Regions from separate parts of the Homo sapiens genome. Here regions 1, 2 and 4 are each linked to region 3. Evidence: fine-mapped expression QTL. A gene starts in region 3. Each other region holds a variant in brackets. All regions are shown on one strand. Distances are from middle to middle. Region 1 overlaps AP3B1 (adaptor related protein complex 3 subunit beta 1). Region 2 overlaps AP3B1 (adaptor related protein complex 3 subunit beta 1). Region 3 holds the start of AP3B1 (adaptor related protein complex 3 subunit beta 1). Region 4 overlaps AP3B1 (adaptor related protein complex 3 subunit beta 1).

What was found. PIP is the estimated chance that this variant, and not a neighbour inherited with it, causes the effect.
Region 1: its variant is fine-mapped to the expression of AP3B1 in whole blood (INTERVAL, PIP above 0.99).
Region 2: its variant is fine-mapped to the expression of AP3B1 in whole blood (TOPMed, PIP 0.96).
Region 4: its variant is fine-mapped to the expression of AP3B1 in whole blood (INTERVAL, PIP above 0.99). The same link has a PIP of 0.9 or more in T cells, blood mononuclear cells, lung, monocytes, monocytes after R848 and neutrophils.

Annotation. Positions count from the first base shown.
Region 1 is chr5:78,141,520-78,147,396 of GRCh38, reverse strand. All of the region lies in intron 14 of AP3B1 (adaptor related protein complex 3 subunit beta 1), which reads left to right. Among named protein-coding and RNA genes, the nearest start is that of AP3B1, 150 kb to the left of the region's middle. The variant C/AAACAACAACAAC (reference allele first, on the strand shown) is at 2,553.
Region 2 is chr5:78,120,680-78,126,556 of GRCh38, reverse strand. The region is part of intron 17 of AP3B1 (adaptor related protein complex 3 subunit beta 1); the gene reads left to right. Among named protein-coding and RNA genes, the nearest start is that of AP3B1, 170 kb to the left of the region's middle. The variant C/T (reference allele first, on the strand shown) is at 3,023.
Region 3 is chr5:78,291,491-78,297,367 of GRCh38, reverse strand. AP3B1 (adaptor related protein complex 3 subunit beta 1) reads left to right here and starts at 2,670. Exons shown (of 27, transcript NM_003664.5): 1 at 2,670-2,916. The coding sequence starts at 2,789. RefSeq lists enhancers at 1,410-1,459, 1,834-2,407.
Region 4 is chr5:78,040,971-78,046,847 of GRCh38, reverse strand. All of the region lies in intron 22 of AP3B1 (adaptor related protein complex 3 subunit beta 1), which reads left to right. It also overlaps the pseudogene LOC100422441. Among named protein-coding and RNA genes, the nearest start is that of AP3B1, 250 kb to the left of the region's middle. RefSeq lists an enhancer at 330-906. The variant C/T (reference allele first, on the strand shown) is at 2,826.

The sequences.
Region 1 (5,877 bases), 150 kb after region 3:
GCTACAGGCCATTTATAGTTAAAGCACCTTAATCAAGTGATAAAAGTTGAAAATAAGAAGGTAAGGAAAGAGATATTAAGCAAATATGAACAAGAAAGTGAGATTTACAGTTAATTAAAAGCATTTAACAAGATAAAAAGGAACATTATAAAATGAAAAAAGGGTAATTTGTAAAGAAAGTAATAAGCACAAACCTATTTGCACAAAAAATATGGCAACCAAATAAATATGTAAAGGAAAAATCTATTCAAAATGTGAGGAGAAATTGATAAAATAGTTACAATGTGTGACTGTAATGTATTTCTCTCATATTAGATATTTCTAGTAGACAGATATAAGTAAGAAAATTAAGTAATCAAAAACTTATTTAGTAAATATAGCTAAAACCTTATATCTCTTGAACAGATAATACCCACTTTTAGGAGTATATCCAGTGAATATTTTCAAAAAATCAAGAATGTATTTAGGCATAAAGGAAGCTTAAAGATTTTGCATTCTTTGACCTTAAGCAATGAAATGAGACTTAAATAATTTAAAAGGGTACCAGACCAGTTGTAAAGTAAGAAATGTACTTTCAGATTAAAGAATGCATTTAAAGAAGAAATGCAAACTTTTTTCTAAAACCCAGGAAATAAAATGCTTTATTTCAAAACATGTAGGACATGGCTAAAGTTATAAAGATCACCATTTTTAAAGTATAGGGATATAAAATAAAAGAAAAACGAATCAAAACAGAAGAGGGATCAATGCTGATTTTGTAAAATAGAATACAAAAAATATATATGAGTTGAAAAGTACATGTTAAATCTGGTCTTTTGGAAAGAAAATAAAACAAAATTCCCTTCTAATTATTATGAAGCAGAGAGAGGTAACAAAAGTAGACAAATCTGGAATATGATAATAAAAGAAATTAAAATACAAGAAAGCTGTATGGAATTCTACAGCACACATTTGAACTTAAGGAGAATGAAAAGCTGATAATTAGTTGTTACTGCTCATCTAACGTATCTGAGGAAACTGAAGTGCTTGAAGGTGGGACAAGCAAGGAAGAATCAAAACAATTTGTTGTGCAGAACCCTCAAAATGGTCAACCACAAGTTACCCCAGGAGAAGGTGATGAGGGATGTAGCAGACATAACTTCAAAGTCAGGAAAGAAGAATGATTGAATCCCCAGAATCTCTCTGTTCCAGTCAGGAGAGCTGTTTATACAAGAACAATGGCCATGTGGAAATAAAAGCAGTGTTTTATTAATCCGACCAAGTACCTGATAACTCCTAAACGTAGGCAAGTGATTTTAAAATGTGAGCCTTAAAATAAGAGCCTTAAATGAGACTTCTGTCCTCCTGAATCTCTACCTATTTCACCATCAAACCCAGGAGTGTCATTCTAAAACACTGCAATTTTAGGAAAAGCCAGTCTGTCCAATATCTAAGGACAATGGGTCAATATTGAGCATGTTTTCCTTCAGTGCCTGAGCCACTTTATTAGGGCAGAATCCTGGGTCCATCTTTCTTCTGGAAGGAGAGAGAACAGAAGTGATAGCAAGACCTCTTCCCACCTGGCCACCTTACCTATCCTTAAAAGAAGAGGTGAAAGAAGTGGGAAAATGTCCCACTATACACGGGTGTGGGAACAGGCAAGAGGATGGCCTGGGTCTGCCCTGAAAATCTGGCTCTTGGGGAAATGGCAGGAGGCACTAAGGGAGCCATTGCACAATGTGGCAGACAAACAGAGGATGAAGGAATAATCCTTCATCTGATTAATAAGTAAATATGACCCCAGTGAGGTGAAGTTAATTGCCTCCTTGATGTAACACCATCAGTGTGGGATCAGAACCGGTCTCAACAGCTTGCTGACCAGTATTCTTCCTAGTTTACCACACTCATTTTGTCGCTACCCAGTGATCCAGTATGAATTTTGGATTCAGATTTGGAGTTCTGATCCTAGTTCCACCACTAACCAGCTGTGAGATGTGGGCAAGTTTCTTAACTCATTTGTTACCTAGTTTCCTCATATGTCTAGTGCAGATCATAGTAGAGCATACTTCATAGGGCTTTGGCGATGAATGACTGAGAAAATACGTAAAGCTCTCAAAAACAGTGCATGGCACATGGTAAGAGCTCAATAGATATTAGCTATGTAATTTGTTTTAAAAAGAGAACATAGATTTTATCATATTGAGGGCTTTGTTTTAATTGGTTATTTAGTAATAATTGAAAATATAAAAACTAAAGTTTAAATGTATTTTACATTTTGAATTCGGTCAAATCAAATAGATTTATGTCTGTAATACAGTCAACTTACATGTTCTGATTGTGAGTATTCTGTCCTTTGGCGTATCCTTCATTTATGATAAATACTGGTTTTGGAGTTCTTCTAGAATAAAATGCATACTATCAGCTGGCATGGTGGCTCATGCCTGTAATCCCAGAACTTTGGGAGGCTGAGGCGGGAGGATTGCTTGAGCCCAGGAGTTTGAGGTTGTAGTGAGCAATGATTGCACCACCGCACTCCAGCCTGGATGACAGAGTAAGACCCTGTCTTTAAAAAA[C/AAACAACAACAAC]AACAACAACAACAAAACAACCCATACTACCTGTGGATTGCTCTGACAGGATTTCACATAATGTTTAATGGGACAGATGGGATTTCATATCTTAACAACTGAAAGATGTTATTCTGTAAAAACTGAGTAATATTGAAATAGCACTTTGTATCCTTGTTGCCCAGATGCCTCACAGGATGCCTGCCATTTCACAAGTTACCCACCCTTTCTCTGGCACCCCATTGTAATTCAGGCTTAGGCTTTAATGCATATTGAGTCCAGATACAGAGTATTAGATCTGATTTGCTGTTGGTATGCAGTTTGCTTAGATGTCTACTGATTTTGCCTTTGACAAATTTAAATAAATGAAATTGATGTTTTTGTAGGGTTTACTTTGGACTGTTGCACTGTGCAGTGGGCTGGTGTTGAAACACAATAGCTTTTAAATTGAACTGCTTACAGAGTGATCTGCAAAATCTTTCTAGATGTCTTTCTATAGCTGCTGTGGTGAGCTAGGAATCATTATTTGTTTTTGCTGGCAAATTAATGGGTTGTGGTGGCCGTGGAAACTGCCTTCTAGTACAAGGTTTGAAAAGTGCATTTAATCACTTTCTCAGGGCATTTAGAATAAAGAATCAGGCAAAGTCATTTACAATCCAATTTGTCTTTGAGAATATTGAAAAGCAGAGCTTCATAATGAAAGTATTATATCATATGTATGACTCTGTGTGTGTGTCTGTACCTGTGTCTGTGTCTGTGTGTGTATTATTAGTTTGGTTTTATTTCAGTGTTCCTATTTATTTTGTGGTTAAAAAGACCATGGGGAACAAAAAGTGACTAATTTACTTTTCTTTTTTTTTTGAGACAGAGTCTCGCTCTGTCACCCAGGCTGGAGTGCAGTGGCACAATCTTAGCTCACTGCAACCTCTGCCTCCTGAGTTCAAGTGATTCTTTTACCTTAGCCTCCCAAGTAGCTGGAATTACAGGAGTGTGCCAGGCTAATTTTGTATATTTAGTAGAGACAGGGTATCACCATGTTGGCCAGGCTGGTCTCAAACTCCTGTCCTCAAGTGATCCACCCGCCTCAGCCTCCCAAAGTGCTGGGATTTTAGGCATGAGCCACTGTGCCTGGCCTCTAAAAAGTGACTAATTTTCTTACTTGCCTTTTTTTCAGGTGCTTCAAATCTTTGAAAGTAGTGGCTGTGAATTCATAGTGTCAATGGTGTATAAATGAGAGTCCTGTTGCTTAATGGGAAGAGAAAGGGAAAGCTGGAATCCAAAAATCTTAGTATTCTGATCCCATCCACCTGCTCAAAAATGTTGTCTTTGTCAGTTTCCTAAGCTTTGTAATACAATGCCATCACCAAAAGTTTGGTATATTTATATTGATATTATTTCTTGTGGTGAAGTTTTCTAAGTTTTAAAAATTCTTGGGGATTTTATTAGCTCAGTTCTAGAAAACTACAAATCTTATTCTCACCACCATCTTGAGATTTTTATTGTGAGCATTGTGATTTATTGATTTTTAATTTTTTCAAAGAGTTGTATTTTAAATATATGTATCGTGAGTGTTTACAGTATTCCAATATTTTAATTTTAATTTTAGTATATTCATGAATATAAACAATCTCTTTAAACATTACTTGTTTTTGGGATCGTCTTTTTAATTGCAAAAGATTGTTACCAGAAGAAAATTACTTAAAATGGGATAATAGATTATGGTATGTCATAGAATTCTGATTTTTATACTAGCAATATATAATAAAATATTTAAGAAAAATAAATCTAGCATAACTGAAATTTGAAGTTGCACATATATTCTTATTTAGAACTACCTTTCATTATGGCAGGCAACTTGAATTCCTCTATACTGGAAAATTTAATGTACCACTCAATTACTATTCTTTAGCCCAATTTAAAATAATAGATTGGGAGTAAGGTCTTAATGCAGTGTAACCTTTGGAACGTTAGAAATAACCTCTTTTCTTTCCAGAAATCAGTATGCAGTAAGGGCATCAGTTTTATCACACTGCATGAATAGATTTTTAATAGCACTTAGACCTTTTTCTAATTGCACAAGTATATGGATTTCTTGTGTCTCACCAAACATGCTAAATAATAATTTAAAGACATGCTGTTACACTGTTTTAAAATATATACCTTTTTATTTAAAAGCTTTTTTGATCATCTCATTCTGATTCTAGTGAAGGACTCAATATTGTAACTTAATATTTTTATATAATTTCATAATGTGGGTGTTTTGAAAGATTTTGCAATGGTAGATATTGTGATAAAATTTTAGCTATGGAAAGGTCCTTATTCTCACTTTTTTCTTTAACAATCCTACTATGTATAGCCATGAAACTACAGAAAATATTAGGACTTTGAGAAATTGTAAAAGGACTTCATAAAAAGAACATTATCTTTCCTCGTGATGCCACCTTTTAATGATAGCTGTCAGCCTTTTCACTTATTATAAAAAACAAATTTTCTGTGCGAGGTGAAAATGTTCACTGAAATGAATTTACACACCCTCTCAAATTCCTTTTGGAATAGGGGAGGATGCAAATAAGCAAATAGTAATAAAACTAATTTGCATACTCTAAATTGTTGGTCTTAATGGTACTGATGGAAGGTTTCCAATTTGTCACAAAGCAGTGACTTTTAAGAACATAAATTATATTGAAATGCAGTTTATTTAAAAATATAGTGCCAAAATGCAATATTGGACAAATTTATCCCTGTTTCTTTTGTTGACCAAATAATAGACTGGGATTCATGATTTTATAAGCAGACCTTGATGATCTTATCAGTTTGATATATTTCCAGTGTTGTAGATGCTAATACATAAAGAGCAAAAACAGTTTTGATTTGGAATCATAGTACCTAATTGATCTGTTTCTTTTTCTGTATTATCTGTGGGTTCTCAAATGGGCTTTGTGGACCACCTGTCTCAGGAGTCATCTGTGATGCTTTTTAAATTAAAACATAGATTTCTGGGCCCCACCACAGAAATACTATTTTGGAGCTGATCCCAGGACCTGTCTTTTTAGTAAGAACCCTGGATGATTTTTGTGGGCATTGAGGTTTGGGAACTGCTGTTCTAGAGCAGGGGTCAGCAAACCATTTCTATAAATTGCTAGACAGTCAATATTTTTGGCTTTGAGGACCATATGGTCTTCACTGTAACTATTTCTGCCATTATAGCACAAAAGCAGCAACAGATAATGGAGAAACAAATAGGTATGGGCAGCTAGACTGGCTTCTAGAATTTGTTCGTCTCTGATAGAATCTAGATTCTAGACCATCGGTTTTTGCTGTATGAATATTTTCTAAGATATTCTCT
Region 2 (5,877 bases), 170 kb after region 3:
AAAGAGTTGCCTTATTTGTGCAATTTTTTTTTTTTTTTTTTTTTTTTTTTTTGAGACAGAGTCTTGCTCTGTCACCCAGGCTGCAGTGCAGGGGCATGATCTTGGCTCATTGCAAGCTCTGCCTCCCAGGTTCAAGCGATTCTCCTGCGTTAGCTTCCCAAGTAGCTGGGATTACAGCCACATGCCACCATGCTTGGCTAATTTTTGTATTTTTAGTAGAGATGGGGTTTCGCCATGTTGGCCAGGCTGGTCTCAAACTCGTGACCTCAAGTGATCTGCCCGCCTCAGCCTACCAAAGTGCTGGGATTACAGGTGTGAGTCACCGTGCCCAGCCTATTTGTGCAACTTTTGATCAGATACTAGAATATAAAGAGAGTGTTCTTTGTTATGGTTCCTCCTACGGACATACTTTCTCTCCTAATTTCTTATTATGCTTGTTTGTTGTTTTTATGGTTCGTTTTTTTTTTTCATTATGGGGTACATGATGTTTTAGCCCAAGTAGAACCATCCTTTTAACCTTCCCCTGCTTCCGCCTTATCTCTCCCTCCTTGCTGCCCCCACCCACCAAAAAGCATTATCTTCTCAGAGTTGATAGCAATGCTATGCAATTTAATTTGGTCTCAGCAGTATTCTTTATTGGCTGATAGATTGGTTTGTTGGCTGGCTTCTTCCATTTTCATGTGCTCTTCTAAGCATTAACTACCTTATAGGGACAGTACTTAAATATAACATATTATGTTCGTTTCACCTGTCCAATTCAACAGAGACAAATTAATTTCTTTTTCATTTTGCTGATTATATTTATGAAATTAATAATTGGTAACTTAGAGAGAATCATTATAACTGATTGAACATGGTTTGATAAAACTGTCACTGTCTGTTGATGCCATGCAGAAAACAGCTTCAGTCTATTGGACTCTGAGACAATTGGCTTAAAATTATACTATGAGGGACACAATTAAATATAAAAATAACGTAGATAGTTTTCTTTTTAAATGCAGCTACAATACAAAAAATAATGTCCGTATTATCTTTCTTGTCTCTCACTCTACTTCATCTCCCTTCCAAGTCATGTCACTGTATTTCATGCATATAATATACTATGTTATTCTAGTTTTCCTGTAAAGTGATCTTACATGGTCAAGTCCTGTAACTGTGAAATATAACTTAGTAAGAAAAATGACCTAGGTTTAGATAATCTGATATTTTAATCAAAATGACTGGGAACCTAGTCAGATTGACAGTAGAAGTCACTTTGAATTACACACCACCATTTCTAGGATATAGGATATAATATATATTTATATTATGATCCCAGTAAGTTTTGAAGATCCTTAGTTAATAATTTATTTGCTTAGTTCTAGAAAGTCCTTTCTTCTCTACTGACAGAAAGACCGCCTTCTGCATATGAAGGGTATTTTGCTTCATAAACACATCTGTCAATATTTTATCCTTTACAGAAACTTTCAAATTAGCGTCTATGTTCTCTTCTTTTCTTTTCTTTTCTTTTCCCTATTATTCCTTTTCCTTACAATGATAATGTGGTCTTTTAGTCATAAAGGACCACAATACAAATTAAGATACTTTTATTGTTCGTCTTTGGCCTTTTAAAACCTGAAACTCCATAGAATTCATGGCCATGTCAAGAAAAAATGCACGTTTGAGCATAGAAGTCTGGTTTTCCGAAATTGTTGATTTAGTGTTATTAAATTAATCCAACAAACGTTTTATCAGACCTCAGAGAAATATGTTTGGATTTAAGAAAAATATGGACTTCAGAGTTTACCAAATATAAGAGAGCTTTGTTTATAGAATACTATCTTTGTAGACAGAAGCATTTTAAATAAATATAAAAGAAAGCCATACTGCTGATCTTATATAAGCATCTTATTCAAATATATTCAAGCTTCTCTTTTTAAGCAACATACCTTAAACCCTCTAGATCAGTGGTTTTATTTTTATTTGCTTTTATTTATTTTTTTGAGACATGATTTTGCTCTGTCACCCAGGCTGGAGTGCAGTGGTGCGATCATAGCTCACTGCAGCCTCAAACTCCTGGGCTCAAGCCATCCTCCTGCCTCAGCTCCCAAAGTGCTGAGAGTACAGGTATGAGCTACATCACCCAGCCTTAGACTAGTGGTTTTTAAATGTAGCTGCGCATTATAATCATATGGAGATTTTGTGTGTGTGTGTGTGTTTAATTTTTATTTTATTATTATACTTTTAGGGTACATGTGCACAATGTGCAGGTTTGTTACATATGTATACATGTGCCATGTTGGTGTGCTGCACCCATTAACTCGTCATTTAGCATTAGGTATATCTCCAAATGCTATCCCTCCCCACTCGCCCCACCCCACAACAGTCCCTGGAGTGTGATGTTCCCCTTCCTGTGTCCATGTGTTCTCATTGTTCATTTCCCACCTATGAGTGAGAACATGTGGTGTTTGGTTTTTTGTCCTTGTGATAGTTTGCTGAGAATGATGGTTTCCAGTTTCATCCATGTCCCTACAAAGGACATGAACTCATCATTTTTTATGGCTGCATAGTATTCTATGGTGTATATGTACCACATTTTCTTAATCCAGTCTGTCGTTGTTGGACATTTGTGTTGGTTCCAAGTCTTTGCTATTGTGAATAGTGCCGCAATAAACATACATGTGCCTGTGTCTTTATAGCAGCATGATTTATAATCCTTTGGGTATATACCCAGTAATGGGATGGCTGGGTCAAATGGTATTTCTAGTTCTAGATCCCTGAGGAATCGCCACACTGACTTCCACAATGGTTGAACTAGTTTACAGTCCCACCAACAGTGTAAAAGTGTTCCTATTTCTCCACATCCTCTCCAGCACCTGTTGTTTCCTGACTTTTTAATGATTGCCATTCTAACTGGTGTGAGATGGTATCTCATTGTGGTTTTGATTTGCATTTCTCTGATGGTCAGTGATGACGAGCATTTTTTCATGTGTTTTTTGGCTGCATAAATGTCTTCTTTTGAGAAGTGTCTGTTCACATCCTT[C/T]GCCCACTTTTTGATGGGGTTGTTTGTTTTTTTCTTGTAAATTTGTTTGAGTTCATTGTAGATTCTGGATATTAGCCCTTTGTCAGATGAGTAGGTTGCAAAAATTTTCTCCCATTCTGTAGATTGCCTGTTCACTCTGATGGTAGTTTCTTTTGCTGTGCAGAAGCTCTTTAGTTTAATTACGTCCCATTTGTCAATTTTGGCTTTTGTTACCATTGCTTTTGGTGTTTTAGACATGAAGTCCTTGCCCATGCCTCTGTCCTGAATGGTATTGCCTAGGTTTTCTTCTAGGGTTTTTATGGTTTTAGATCTAACATTTAAGTCTTTAATCCATCTTGAATTAATTTTTGTATAAGGTGTAAGGAAGGGATCCAGTTTCAGCTTTCTACATCTGGCTAGCCAGTTTTCCCAGCACCATTTATTAAATAGGGAATCCTTTCCCCGTTGCTTGTTTTTCTCAGGTTTGTCAAAGATCAGATGGTTGTAGATATGCGGCATTATTTCTGAGGGCTCTGTTCTGTTCCATTGATCTATATCTCTGTTTTGGTACCAGTACCATGCTGTTTTGGTTACTGTAGACTTGTAGTATAGTTTGAAGTCAGATGGCATGATGCCTCCAGCTTTGTTCTTTTGGCTTAGGATTGACTTGGCGATGCGGACTCTTTCTTGGTTCCATATGAACTTTAAAGTAGTTTTTTCCAATTCTGTGAAGAAAGTCATTGGTAGCTTGATGGGGATGGCATTGAATCTATAAATTACCTTGGGCAGTATGGCCATTTTCACGGTATTGATTCTTCCTACCCATGAGCATGGAATGTTCCTCCATTTGTTTGTATCCTCTTTTATTTCATTGAGCAGTGGTTTGTAGTTCTCCTTGAAGAGGTCCTTCCCATCCCTTGTAAGTTGGATTCCTAGGTATTTTATTCTCTTTGAAGCAATTGTGAATGGGAGTTCACTCATGATTTGGCTCTCTGTTTGTCCGTTATTGGTGTATAAGAATGCTTGTGATTTTTGCACATTGATTTTGTATCCTGAGACTTTGCTGAAGTTGCTTATCAGCTTAAGGAGATTTTGGGCTGAGACGATGGGTTTTCTAGATAAACAATCATGTCATGTGCAAACAGGGACAATTTGACTTCATCTTTTCCTAATTGAATGCCCTTTATTTCCTTCTCCTGCCTAACTGCCCTGGCCAGAACTTCCAACCCTATGTTGAATAGGAGTGGTGAGAGAGGGCATCCCTGTCTTGTGCCAGTTTTCAAAGGGAATGCTTCCAGTTTTTGCCCATGCTGTATGATATTGGCTGTGGGTTTGTCATAGATAGCTCTTATTATTTTGAGATACATCCCATCAATACCTAATTTATTGAGAGTTTTTAGCATGAAGGGTTGTTGAATTTTGTCAAAGGCCGTTTCTGCATCTATTGAGATAATCATGTGGTTTTTGTCTTTGGTTCTGTTTATATGCTGGATTACATTTATTGATTTGTGTATGTTGAACCAGCCTTGCATCCCAGGGATGAAGCCCACTTGATCATGGTGGATAAGCTTTTTGATGTGCTGCTGGATTCGGTTTGCCAGTATTTTATTGAGTATTTTTGCATCAATGTTCATCAAGGATATTGGTCTAAAATTCTCTTTTTTGGTTTGTGTCTCTGCCAGGCTTTGGTATCAGGATGATGCTGGCCTCCTAAAATGAGTTAGGGAGGCTTCCCTCTTTTTCTATTGATTGGAATAGTTTCAGAAGGAATGGTACCAGCTCCTCCTTGTACCTCTGGTAGAATTCGGCTGTGAATCCATCTGGTCCTGGACTTTTTTTGGTTGGTAAGCTACTGATTATTGTCACAATTTCAGAGCCTGTTATCGGTCTATTCAGAGATTCAACTTCTTCCTGGTTTAGTCTTGGGAGGGTGTATGTATCAAGGAATTTATCCATTTCTTCTAGATTTTCTAGTTTATTTGCGTAGAGATGTTTGTAGTGTTCTCTGATGGTAGTTTGTATTTCTGTGGGATCAGTGGTGATATCCCTTTTATCATTTTTTATTGCATCTATTTGATTCTTCTCTCTTTTCTTCTTTATTAGTCTTGCTAGCAGTCTATCAATTTTGTTGATCTTTTCAAAAAAGCAGCTCCTGGATTCATTGATTTTTTTGAAGGGTTTTTTCTGTCTCTATTTCCTTCAGTTCTGCTCTGATTTTAGTTATTTCTTGCCTTCTGCTAGCTTTTGAATGTGTTTGCTCTTGCTTTTCTAGTTCTTTTAATTGTGATGTTAGGGTGTCAATTTTGGATCTTTCCTGCTTTCTCTTGTGGGCATTCAGTGCTATAAATTTCCCTCTACACACTGCTTTGAATGTGTCCCAGAGATTCTGGTATGTGGTGTCTTTGTTCTCGTTGGTTTCAAAGAACATCTTTATTTCTGCCCTCATTTTGTTATGTACCCAGTAGTCATTCAGGAGCAGGTTGTTCAGTTTCCATGCAGTTGAGCGGTTTTGAGTGAGTTTCTTAATCCTGAGTTCTAGTTTGATTGCACTGTGGTCTGAGAGACAGTTCGTTATAATTTCTGTTCTATTACATTTGCTGAGGAGTGCTTTACTTCCAACTATGTGGTCAATTTTGGAATAGGTGTGGTGTGGTGCTGAGAAGAATGTATATTCTGTTGATTTGGGGTGGAGAGTTCTGTAGATGTCTATTAGGTCTGCTTGGTGCAGAGCTGAGTTCAATTACTGGGTATCCTTGTTAAATTTCTGTCTCGTTGATCTGTTTAATGTTGACAGTAGGGTGTTAAAGTCTCCCATTATTAATGTGTGGGAGTCTAAGTCTCTTTGTAGGTCACTCAGGACTTGCTTTATGAATCTG
Region 3 (5,877 bases):
AGAGTAATCTTTTAGTTTTATTAATGTTTCTTCCAGTTGGAAGTGTGACTTTTTTTCCTCTGTCAGAAAACTTCATGGCTATATAAAAGATTTTTCAGTTCTGGAGATATGGGAAAGCTGGATCACAGCCCATGGAGTTATTACTTTTTATCTTTCTGTAAGAATATACAGTGTTAGAATTCTAAGGCAGTAAGGGCCTCAAGTCCCTTCTTGTCAATGCTCTCATTTTTTTATTTTTTTTTTAGTGATAAAAATAAAGTTTTACCTATTTCATCCAGGAATATATGCTTTGTATCTTATACGTAATATTCCAGAGAAAAAGAAAGTTACCTATACCTCTTTTTTGAAGAATAGATATTCTTAATATCCACACCATTCAAAGACAATGTAAAAACAAAACAAACAAAACCCCAAAAAACAAACCCCCAAAACCCAAAACCCCAATATTGTAGGTCAGTCTCCTACCTGAGTCTGTATGAAAAAATAAAAATATTACAAAATAAAATCAAGCAGTTAATTAAAAATAACAGACTCAATGATAAAGAACTCTTCAAGTCCATCAGAAAAACTACTCAGTGTAAAAGTGGATAAATAGGTTCATGTGCAATTCCCAGGAAATAAAATGCAAATGGAGTAACAATCACATAAAATATTCTCAAGTTCATTATGGCCATGAGAATGAAAATTAATTACAATACAAATAATATTCATTTGTATCATATTGATGACAATTAAACATTTTTAGAAAGCTAAACGTTTGTGAGAATGTGAAGAAAGAAGATTATCCACTGCTAAAAGTATGCTGGAAAAAAATTTAGGATATCTGGTAAAAGTGTACATGCTCTAAAACCAAGAAATTCTGTAATCAGGTATGTGTCCGAGATTTTCCAGGCTATGTGTATATCAATGTTCTCATTTTACAAATAAAGTAATCAAAGCCTAGCTCTTTTTACTATTAATATATATAAAACTACTTAGAACTTTTAATATATATTAAAAGTTAACTATTTTAACTTAAAAGTATTTATTTTAACTTAAAATAAATTTTTTTATATTAAAAGTTAACTACTTTAACTATTTATATATATAAAACTACTTAGAAGTTTTAATATATATAAAACTACTTATATCCTGGTATATATTAAGGATTATATAATAATATATAGTTATCTATGATCATCCTCATCCTCATCATCAATAGTCAGTTGTAGGTGAAATTCTATTAATTAATACTGACAAATAACACATTTTAGGTGCTCATCATTGGCTCTCCGGAGGAGTATTCTAACAGCTGAATTAAAAACCTGCCAATATTTGACCAGACGATCAAGTTTGGAGGACGTCCCTTCCTCTCCCACCCAGAGCCACGCTCTTGCGTGCTTCCACAGTGACAGTGTGACCTTTTGAAATTTGGAGATCATACTCTCATCCTTGAAAACGCCCCACCGCCTTCCCTGGGGCGGCCGGCCTCCAGGTTCGCGTTCTACCTGGTAGAATCCCTTGACAGTTTCAGTACCTGGCCGCCAGGGCTTTGGGTGTTAATGCCTTCCTTGGACGGGAGGCACTGGGGAGAAGAGAGGGAAGGCGCTGAAACCCACCTGAGAAGGCGGGCTGGGGGAAGGCACCCCGGGAAAGAGGTTTTCTCGGGTGCCAGCACCCGGAGAGAGCTACTCTGGGGCCAGGCAAGCATCCCGCCTAGGCTCCCTAGTGCATATTAGTGAGTAACACGACTGGCGCGCGAGGTGGTCCATTTTATTTTTGGTAGCTAGACGCCAATAGGACGCACCACTTCAGCTCCAAACGGGAACTGGTGGCCCCAAGATGTTTTCTTTTCTTTTTCATTTTTTTGAGACAGGGTCTCGCTCTGTCGCCCAGGCTGGAATGCAGTGGAGAGATCTCAACTCATCGCTACCCCCTCCTTCTGGGTTCGAGTGATCCTCCCACCTCAGCCTCAGTAGCTGGGACCACAGACACGCGCCACCACGCCGGCTAATTTTTATATTTTTTGCAGAGAAAGGGTCTCGCTATGTTGCCTAGGCTGGTCTCGAACTCCTGGCCTCAAGTGATCCACCCGCCTCGGCCTCCCAAAGTGCTGGAATTACTGGCGTGAGCCACCGCGCCCGGTCTGCCCCCAAGACTTTCATTGAAAAGATGGAATGGTCGCTTCTGTGCGGATCCTCCAAACCATCGTTGGGAGAGGCCTCCTTAAAGTCTAGGAGAAAAGTTGTTTGGGACCGATATGAAAGTAAGGCAAAGCCGGATGGAAGAGAGTAGCCGAAACAAGCAAGAAAAGGAAAAGCGATCGTGATGGGTTTAGGAAAGGTGATCTGGCGTGCTAAATGGCATTTCCGGAGAAATCTGAAAACTATTGCTTTACTGAAGTATAGCAAAGAGCTGTCCGGGCTCTGGAAACTCCTTAACGGATCAAAACGGATGCAATGGGTATCCTTCTCCAAAGACACACCTCAAACGGGCCGGGAGCCGGGCAGTTAGCCACCCGCTGCCTCCCCTTCCGCAGTCCGGCTCGCAGCCGCTCAGCTACCTCTAAAGCCCGGAGCAGGAAAGTCCGCGCAGGCCTGGATGGCCCGGGTGGTAATCTAGCAGGCCTGCACACTGCGCATGCGCAGGGGGTGGACTGCCAGGTCGGCTCAGGGAGCCGTGACGAGTCCGGAAGCGCCTGCGCGCGCTCCTCCGTACGAGAACTAGTTTTGTTCCGTGCCCTCTGGACTGGAACCTTTTGGAGAGAACCCCCGGCAGGACCAACCCCGCACCCGCCAGCACCGCGGCAATGTCCAGCAATAGTTTTCCTTACAATGAGCAGTCCGGAGGAGGGGAGGCGACGGAGCTGGGTCAGGAGGCGACCTCAACCATTTCCCCCTCGGGGGCCTTCGGCCTCTTTAGCAGCGATTTGAAGAAGTGAGGAGAAAGGTTTGGGTTGCGGGGATGGGAGGGAGGAGCTGCGGACTCGGAGGAGTGGGCGCCAGGGTGGGCTTCCTGGAGAGGAGCGGGGTCGCCCTGAGGTCTGAGCAGGGCAGGGCGGTAACGTGTCCCGCGGGTGGGTAGGTGGGGTTGGTTGGCGGTGGTGGGAGTTGTGGGAGTTTGGGGCGAATGTGTGTAGGGGTCTCTAGTAGTTTTCAAACTTTAGTGAAAAGGAAACCACTTGGTGAGCTTAGATCCCACCCCTGAAGACACTGATTGAATTGGACTTGGGCTGGGCTCAGGAGTCTGAATTTTGAGCATCGTCTTCTAGTTTATTTACCGTTCGCCGGATCAGACTTTAATACATTCCCTGATTAGGGTGAAAGGAGTGTTTTGGTGAAGGTGAGAGTGCGAGTGTTGCTTGTGGGAAGTTATTTTGTGACCCCGGAGTGTAGGAGCAGAGAGGTGGATTTAGGCTGTTTGAATGGACAAACTGGTTTACACCAGTATTAATGTTCTTGGATTATGTCCTTTGCACTACAGACAAAAACACCAATCCAAAATAAGCATATGAATAGAAAATATTTTAAAAGAGTGTTACTGTGAACAAATCCAAAACTTTTACAGATTAATAATGTGAATTTTAAAAACGAATGTTAAACAAGGTACACTTAGTTTTGTAAAAAGTATCACCGAGAAATGGAAAGAAATCCCAAGTTGTTTGTTTTGGGGGGTGGGTTGGTGGTAGTGGTTACATTTACCAGAATTATCATTTTTACATTTCTCTTATTTTAAATCTTTCATTACTAAGCAATAGGGTCACATAATAGTCTGTCACTAAATTCATGCTAAATTAAGGTAGAATAGCTGTGCTAGTAGCTTTGCAGATCTGTTAGAGGGTATAATTAAAATTTAAATTAAACGTTACTAACAATATTGGGTAGTCTAGAAAGTGCTACTACTTCAAATTGGGATTACATTTTGGCTGTATTGAGGATCAAAATCATATATATAGCATGTAAGATACAATCTTTTCCTTTTTCCCAAGGTTAGAAAAGTTTAAAAGTAAGGTAACTGATTTCATTTTTCATTATATGCATTTGATGATCCATTGTTCTAGAACAAGTACGGAGCTTGTTGCCTCTACTATTAGCAAAATGTTTAGACTGAATTAACCTGTATATCGGCATCAATCTGTTTCGCAAATTAATTTACTTTTATGGTTTGTGAACATCTACGATGTTTTCTCTTAGATTTTTGTCAGATTTGGGGCCAGGCACTGCGGCTCACGCCTGTAATCCCAGCACTTTGGGAGGGTGAGGTGGGCGGATCGCTTGAGGCCAGGAGTTCGAGACCAGCCTGGCCAACATGGTGAAACCCCGTCTCTACTAAAAATACAAAAATTAGCCGGGCGTGGTGGCTCGTGCCTGTAATCCCAGCTACTCGGGAGGCTGAGGCAGGAGAATCGCTTGAACCCGGGAGGCGGAAGCTGCAGTGAGCCGAGATCGCGCCACAGCACTCAAACGTGGGCGACAGAGTGAGACTCCGTCTCAAAAAAAGAAAAAAAAGAAAAAGATTTTTGTCAAATTTGGACCTGATTTGGAAAAAAAAAACAAAAAAAACTTACGGCTTTGACTCTGTGACCAGTGCTCTTGAGGTGACCTAACAGGTTGGATTTAAAATAAAAGTAGCTAATTGATTAGAGGTGATATGTAATATATGCAAATAACCATGGTTGAATTGTGTTCCCCGAAAGATATTTATTGAGTATTTGTGCACACCACTTTACATTTATTATCTCATTCAGTTTTCCTAAACAACCCTGCAGGTTATTACCAGGTACTTCTCTGCTCCCACTTTACACGTGAGGAAATTGGAGCAAGGTTGTTAACTTGGAAAAGGCCACAAAGGTAGAACATTGCACTGCCTGAATTTGAACTCAGGGGCTCTAATATTAGAGCCCATTCTCTCAAAAGTTTAGATGTGCTACTTACTACTTGATGAAATGTATGGTATTTTTATTAGTGAGTGCATACAACTCACAAAAAGTTTAAAACTTTAAATAGTAGCTCCAAGTAGTACCACCAGAGAAGCTTCCAGGGATTAGAAACATTTGGCTATTGACCTGCAGTCTAATGGAATTGTACAGAAACAAGGAGACCCCTGTTCTGGAAGTGGTCATTAAATCTCTCTTGAGTCCACATTTTCTCATTTATAAAACCGTAATATTACTTGCCTTTTAAAAAATCGAATGACAAAGTTTATATAAAAAACTTAAAGCTTACCCTATTCCTCACCTCTGGTTTTTAATGGTTTACTCTGATGAAATAGTTTCAAGTTTACAAAAAAGTTGCAACAATGACACAGAGAGCTACCCTTTTGCAGATTTACCAATTAAAAAAAAAATGCTACATTGCTTGCTTACTCTCTCTGCCACTCACTCTCCCCATGCATATTCAGGCACATATACGTATTCATGTTATTATGTCTTCTGAACCATTGGAGACTCAGTTGTACACATCATGTTCTTTTACAATGAAAATCTTAATGTGTAATTTTTAAGAACAAAGATATTCTCTTACGCAACTACAGTGTTGATGTATTCAGGAAATTAATCTAATTTTATCCTTTGTTCCAATAAAGTGTTTTTTTTCCCAAGCATTTTTTTCCTCAAGTACAGTTTCCAGTCCAAGATAATATATTTAATTTAGTTGCCATGTCTCTTTAATCTTCTTTAATCTGGGATAGTTCCTTAGCCTTTTTTGTCTTTCATGAATTTGACATATCTAAGGATTGCAAAGCCTATTATTTTATTTTATGTTAATCAGTTTTTGGGTTTGCTGGTGTTTCCTCATGTTTAGATTCAGGTTATGTATCCTTGGCTGGGATACTACCATAGGTGATGCATGCTTCTTGAACTATTACATTTGGAGGCATAGGTTGTCCATCTTCATGATG
Region 4 (5,877 bases), 250 kb after region 3:
AGGGCTAGCATTAGGAGAAATACCTAATATAGATGACAGGGTGATTGGTGTAGCAAAACCACCTTGGCACGTGTATACCTATGTAACAAACCTGCACATTCTGCACATGTATCCCAGAACTTAAAGTATTTTAAAAAAAAAAAGATTCTAGGCTTTTATAAGGGGACTGTTAGCAAATCTATTCAGCCTTTGCCCCAGAGGGAGATTTTGTCTTTCTAATCCTGGACAATGAACAAACAAATCTATCACCTGCCCCAGAGGGAGGCATTACCTCTGTCTTCCAAAGGCTGTTTGCTGTGGAAACATCTTTGAAAAGAGCTTCAGAAGCAAAGTTGCTAATGTTTCTGCTCAGAAGACGTGAGACCTGTAGAGCCCTTTTTGGCACCAGGGACCCGTTTTGTGGAAGACAGTTTTTCCATGGACCGTTGGGAATAGGGGGATGGTTCTGGGATGAAACTGTTCCACCTCAGATTATCAGGCAGGCGTTAGATGCTCATAAGGGGCGTGCTGCCTAGATCCCTCGCATGCGCAGTTCACAATAGGGTTTGCACTCCTATGAGGATCTAATGCCACTGCTGATCTGACGGGAGGCAGAGCTCAGGCGGTAATGCTTGCTCTCATCAGCCACTCACCTCCTGCTGTGCGGCCGGATTCCTGACAACCCATGGCCTGGTACAGGTCCATAGCCCAGGGACTGGGGACCCTCTGCTGTAGAGAATTGTTTCCAACAACAAGGGAAGGGAAGTGGAATGGCAAGGATCTAACATTTGTGCCCTTAGATCGGGGGTCAGCAAACTTTTTTTGTAAAGGTACCAGATAGTAAATGTTTTAGGTATTACAACTACTCACCTCTGCCATTGTAGAGTAAAAAAGCAGTCAAGGACAGTATGTAAATGAAAGAATATGGTTGTGTTCCAGTGATACTTTTTAAAAATAGGCAGCAGGCCATATTTGGCTTGTGGGTTATAGTTTGCAACCTCTGCCCTACATGTATTGTGTTTAGACTTATTAAATCTTCCCTTTTTCTTAAACCCTCATTTTCACAGCCCAAATCTAGATCACTTTATAATTATGTTTTATCTTTTTTTGCATCTAATAAAATCATTGTTGTCTATAAAATATGAAGTCAAGAACGCCATTTGCAATGTTGAGCATCTTAGAATATAAGCAGCCACAGATCTCATATGTATTTCTGGAATATAGGTATCTGGTCTGATGTACAAAATATTGAACTAAAGTCTAAATATATGTTAATATTAATATAACACTGGATTAAATGTATTATATGTGGAAGTAGTCGAAGTATTTATGGAACCCACTCGGTTTATTGAACAAAATATCACCTATGTATTTTATCTAGATGCTGGAGAAGTTTGGCGTAATATGACTTGTATAAACTTAGGAAACAAGGTTAAAAAAGTAATCAAACATTTTCTTTTTCTTTGTGTTTTTTTTTTTTTTTTTTTTGAGACAGAGCCTTGCTTCATCACCCAGACTTGAGGACAGTGGCACTATCTCAGGTCACTGCAACCTCCACTTCCTGGGTTCAAGTAGTCCTCCCACCTCAGCCTCCCAAGTATCTGGAATTACAGGTGCATGCCACCACGCCCAGCTAATTTTTCCATTTTTAGTAGAGATGGGGTTTCACCATGTTGGCCAGGCTGGCCTCAGACTCCTGACCTCAAGTGATCCACCCATCTTGGCCTCCCAAAGTGCTGGGATTACAGGCATGAGCCACCACACCTGGCTATGTTTTCATTTACTACCTTTCTGTAGTTAAACAAGTATATATTATTACCACGAAGTGTCATTTATGATCCTGTTTATTGTGAAAGAGTGCATAGACCTCTGGGAATTATCACAGATAACCTTTGGAGGTTGTAAGGGAGGGCCTTTTTAGACGGTGAATTCATTAGAGAATGCTTTTTACCTTGAACTTGGTTGAATGTGGAAAGAATGAGTGGAGAGAATTATACTGTTTTTCTTTCTTTATTCATCCCTTAACATATTTTTTGATAATTATAATAAAGCTGTAGAATTTTGAGACAAAGTTGAAAACACAAAATAAATGTTTGGACCATGCATCCTAGGATTAGACTGAGAGAAGGAATCAGTGAGTCTGCCAAGGCTTGATGGCTCTTAAATGACTAAAGGCATACTTCTAACCACCTTGTATGATATCTACAGTACTGATTCCTGGCCGCTGTGAACCAGACCTTTGTTCTGTTCTGCTCTAGTCCCACTCCTCTACCCTTGCCTTTCTCCAACTTTCAAATAGTCTTCCCTTTTACATTACAGTTTCAGCTTTCTTTCCCCGATATTATATGTAGGCCAACTTTTTATGAATTTCCACAGAGATAAAGCTGGCTACATCAACATTTATTTAATGATTTGATAACAAATATGTTTGTGGAACAATGTAGAATAAAAGTAAGACCTGTCACTGTCTCTAATATGCTTATCATTAAGGAAATAAACATGTAACACTGAAAAATATAATTAGCCAGATAAGAGCTTATATTTAAGGTTGATTATCATAGCCTTAGTAGCATGGGAATTTATGGCAAAAAAGAAAACTTTTGCTGAGTATAAATCTATAAATATAAAATATATAGCTCTGGAGTCATCCCAGTACAGCCTTGGTGCCATGTGCATGTCGGAGAGTCCCAGCCCACCTTGCTCTCTAGTACTTGTAGCCTTTTTCTTTCGAGATGCCTGAGAAAGTGCACGTGGAGCGGAGGAGCTGGAAACTTGCCTTTCAGGCAGATATTGCCCAACTCATGTCTCTCGTCATCAATACCTTCTATTCTAACAAGGAGATTTTC[C/T]TTCAGGGGTTGATCTAATGTTTCTGATGCATTGGACAAGATTTCCTGTAAGAGCCTGACAAACCCTTCCAAGTTGGACAATGGTAAAGAGCTGGAAGTTAACATCATCCCCAACCCATGGTAATGGTTCCCAAATTAGGAGATCAGCCTTGGTCATGTCAATGCCTGTGTCTACCAAAGTCAGGGTGTATTCCCTGGTACTAAAGGATTTATGGAGGCTCTTCAGGCTAGTGTAGATATCTCCATGATTGGGCAGTTTGGTGCTGCCTTTTTTTCTGCCTACCTTGTGGCAGAGAAAGTAGTTGTGATCACAAAGCACAACAATGATGAAGAGTATGCCTGGGAGTCTCTGCTGGGGGTTCCTTCACTGTATGTGCTGACCATGGAGAGCCCATTGGCAGGGGTACCAAAGTGACCCTCCACCTTAAAGAAGACCAGACAGAGTACTTAGAAGAGAGGAAGGTCAAAGAAGTAGTGAAGAGCACTTACAGTTCATAGCCTATCCCATTACCCTTTCTTTGGAGAAGGAAAGAGAGGAGAAAATCAGTGATGATAGGCAGAGGAAGAGAAAGGTGAGAAAGAAGAGGAAGATAGGCCAGGCACAATGGCTCATGCCTGTAATCCCAGGACTTTGGGAGGCTGAGGTGGCAGATCGATTGAACTCAGGAGTTTGAGACCAGCCTAGCCAACATGGTGAAACCCCAACTCTTTAAAAGATACAAAAAATTAGGCGGTCATGGTGGTGCGCACCTTAGGTCCCAGCTACTTGTGGGGCTGAAGTGGGAGGATCCACCAGGAGGTGGAGGTTGCAGTGAGCTCATATCACACCACCGCACTCCAGCCTGGACGACAGAGTGTTACACCATCTCAAAACAAACAAAAAAAGGCAGATAGAGATGATGAGAAAAAGTCCAAGATTGAAGAAGATGTGGGTGGGTTCAGATGAAGAGGAGGACAATGGTAAGGATAAGAAAAAGAAAACCAACAAGATCAAGGAGAAATCATTGATTGGGAAGAACTAAACAAGATCAAGAACATTTGGATCAGAAACTCTGATGACATTCACCCAGGAGGAGTATAGAGAATTCTACAAGAGCTTCACCAGTGACTAGGAAGACCATTTGGCAGTCAAGCACTTCTCTGTAGAAGGTTGGTTGGAATTCAGAGCATTGCTGTTCATCCCTTGTTTGGCTCCCTTTGACTTCTTTGAGAATGAGAAGAAAAAAAGAACAACAAACTCTGTGTCCATCATGTGTTCATCATGGACAGCCATGATGATATAAGAGTATCTCAACTTTAATCCTTGGTGTGGTTGACTTGGGATCTGCCCCTGAACATCTCTCGAGAAATGCTCCAACAGAGCAGAATCTTAACAGTCATTCACAGAAACATTGTTAAGAAGTGCCTTGAGCTGTTCTCTGAGGTGGCAGAAGACAAGGAGAATTGCAAGAAATTCAATGAGGCCTTATCTAAAAATCTAAAGCTTGGGCCAGTTGTGGTATCTCACCTCTGTAATCTCAGCACTTTGGGAGGCCAAGGCAGGAGGATTGCTGGAAGCCAGGAGTTTGATACCAGCCTGGGCTGCAAAGCAAGACACCATCACAACAAAAAATAAAAAAAATTAACCCAGCATGGTGGTACACACCTGTAGTCCAAGCTACCTGAGGCAAGAGGATCACTTGAGCCCACGAGTTCCAGGCTGCAGTGAGCTATGATTGCACCACTGCACTCCAGCCTGGATGACAGAGTGAAACCCCTATCTATAAAAAAAAAATAAATAAAATTTTAGAATTTCAAAAATTAAAATCTAAAGCTTGGAATCCACAAAGACTCCACTAGCCAGTGACGCATGTCCTAGCTGCTGCAGTATCACACTTCCCAGTCTGGAGATGAGATGACATCTGTGTCAAAATATGTCTCCTGCATGAAAGAGGCACAGAAATCCATCTATAGCATCACTGGTGAGAGCAAAGAGCAGGTGGCCAGCTCTGTGTTTGTGGAGCAAGTGCAGAAGTGGGGCTTTGAATTAGTATATACAGCCAAGCCCACTGATGAGTACTGCGTGCAGCAGCTCAAGGAGTTTGATGGGAAAAGCCTGGTCTCAGTTACCAAGGAGAGTCTGCAGCTGCCTGAGTGAGCTGAGATCGCACCACTGCACTCCAGCCTGGCGACAGAGCGAGACTCTGTCTCAAAAAAAAAGAAAAGAAAGAAAGGAAACAGAAGAGTTTTGAAAATAGTTTTTATTCAAGGAAAAGAACCTAACCTTAGAAGTGAAAGTGCTTTGAAAACTTAAAATACTAGATTGTTATCATCATCAGAAGGCTTAAATAGAATGAATAGGCCAGTAGCCCTATTATTTTATATAACCAAAATTTTAAATTTAGCTAATTGTTTATTATATTTTACAAATAAACTATCCCATAAATTTTTATGATTATTATTTTATTATTATTATTTTTTTTTTGAGACAGGGTCTTGCTCTGTCACCCAGGCGGGAGTGCAGTGACCTAATCATGGCTCACTGCAGCCTCAACTTCCTGAGCTCAGGCAATCCTCCCACCTCAGCCTCCTGAGTAGCTGGGACTACAGGCGCAATGCACCACACCCAGCTAATTTTTTACATTTTCTCTAGAGACAGGATCTCACCATGTTGCCCAGGCTGGTTCTCAAACTCCTGGGCTCAAGTGATCCTCCTACCTCGGCCTCTCGAAGTGCTGAGATTAGAGGTGATGATTTTTTTTTTTTTTTGAGACGGAGTTTTGCTCTTGTTGCCCAGGCTGGAGTGCAATGGCGCGATCTCAGCCCACAGCAACCTCCGCCTCCCAGGTTCAAGCCATTCTCCTGCCTCAGCCTCCAGAGTAGCTGGAATTACAGGCATGCGCCACCATACCCGGTTAATTTTGTATTTTTAGTAGAGACAGGGTTTCTCCATGTTGATCAGGCTGGTCTCAGACTCCGGACCTCAGGTGATCCACCCACCTCGGCCTCCCAAAGTGTTGGAATTACAGGCGTGAGCCACCGCGCCTGGCCAGAGGTGATGATTATTTTAAAT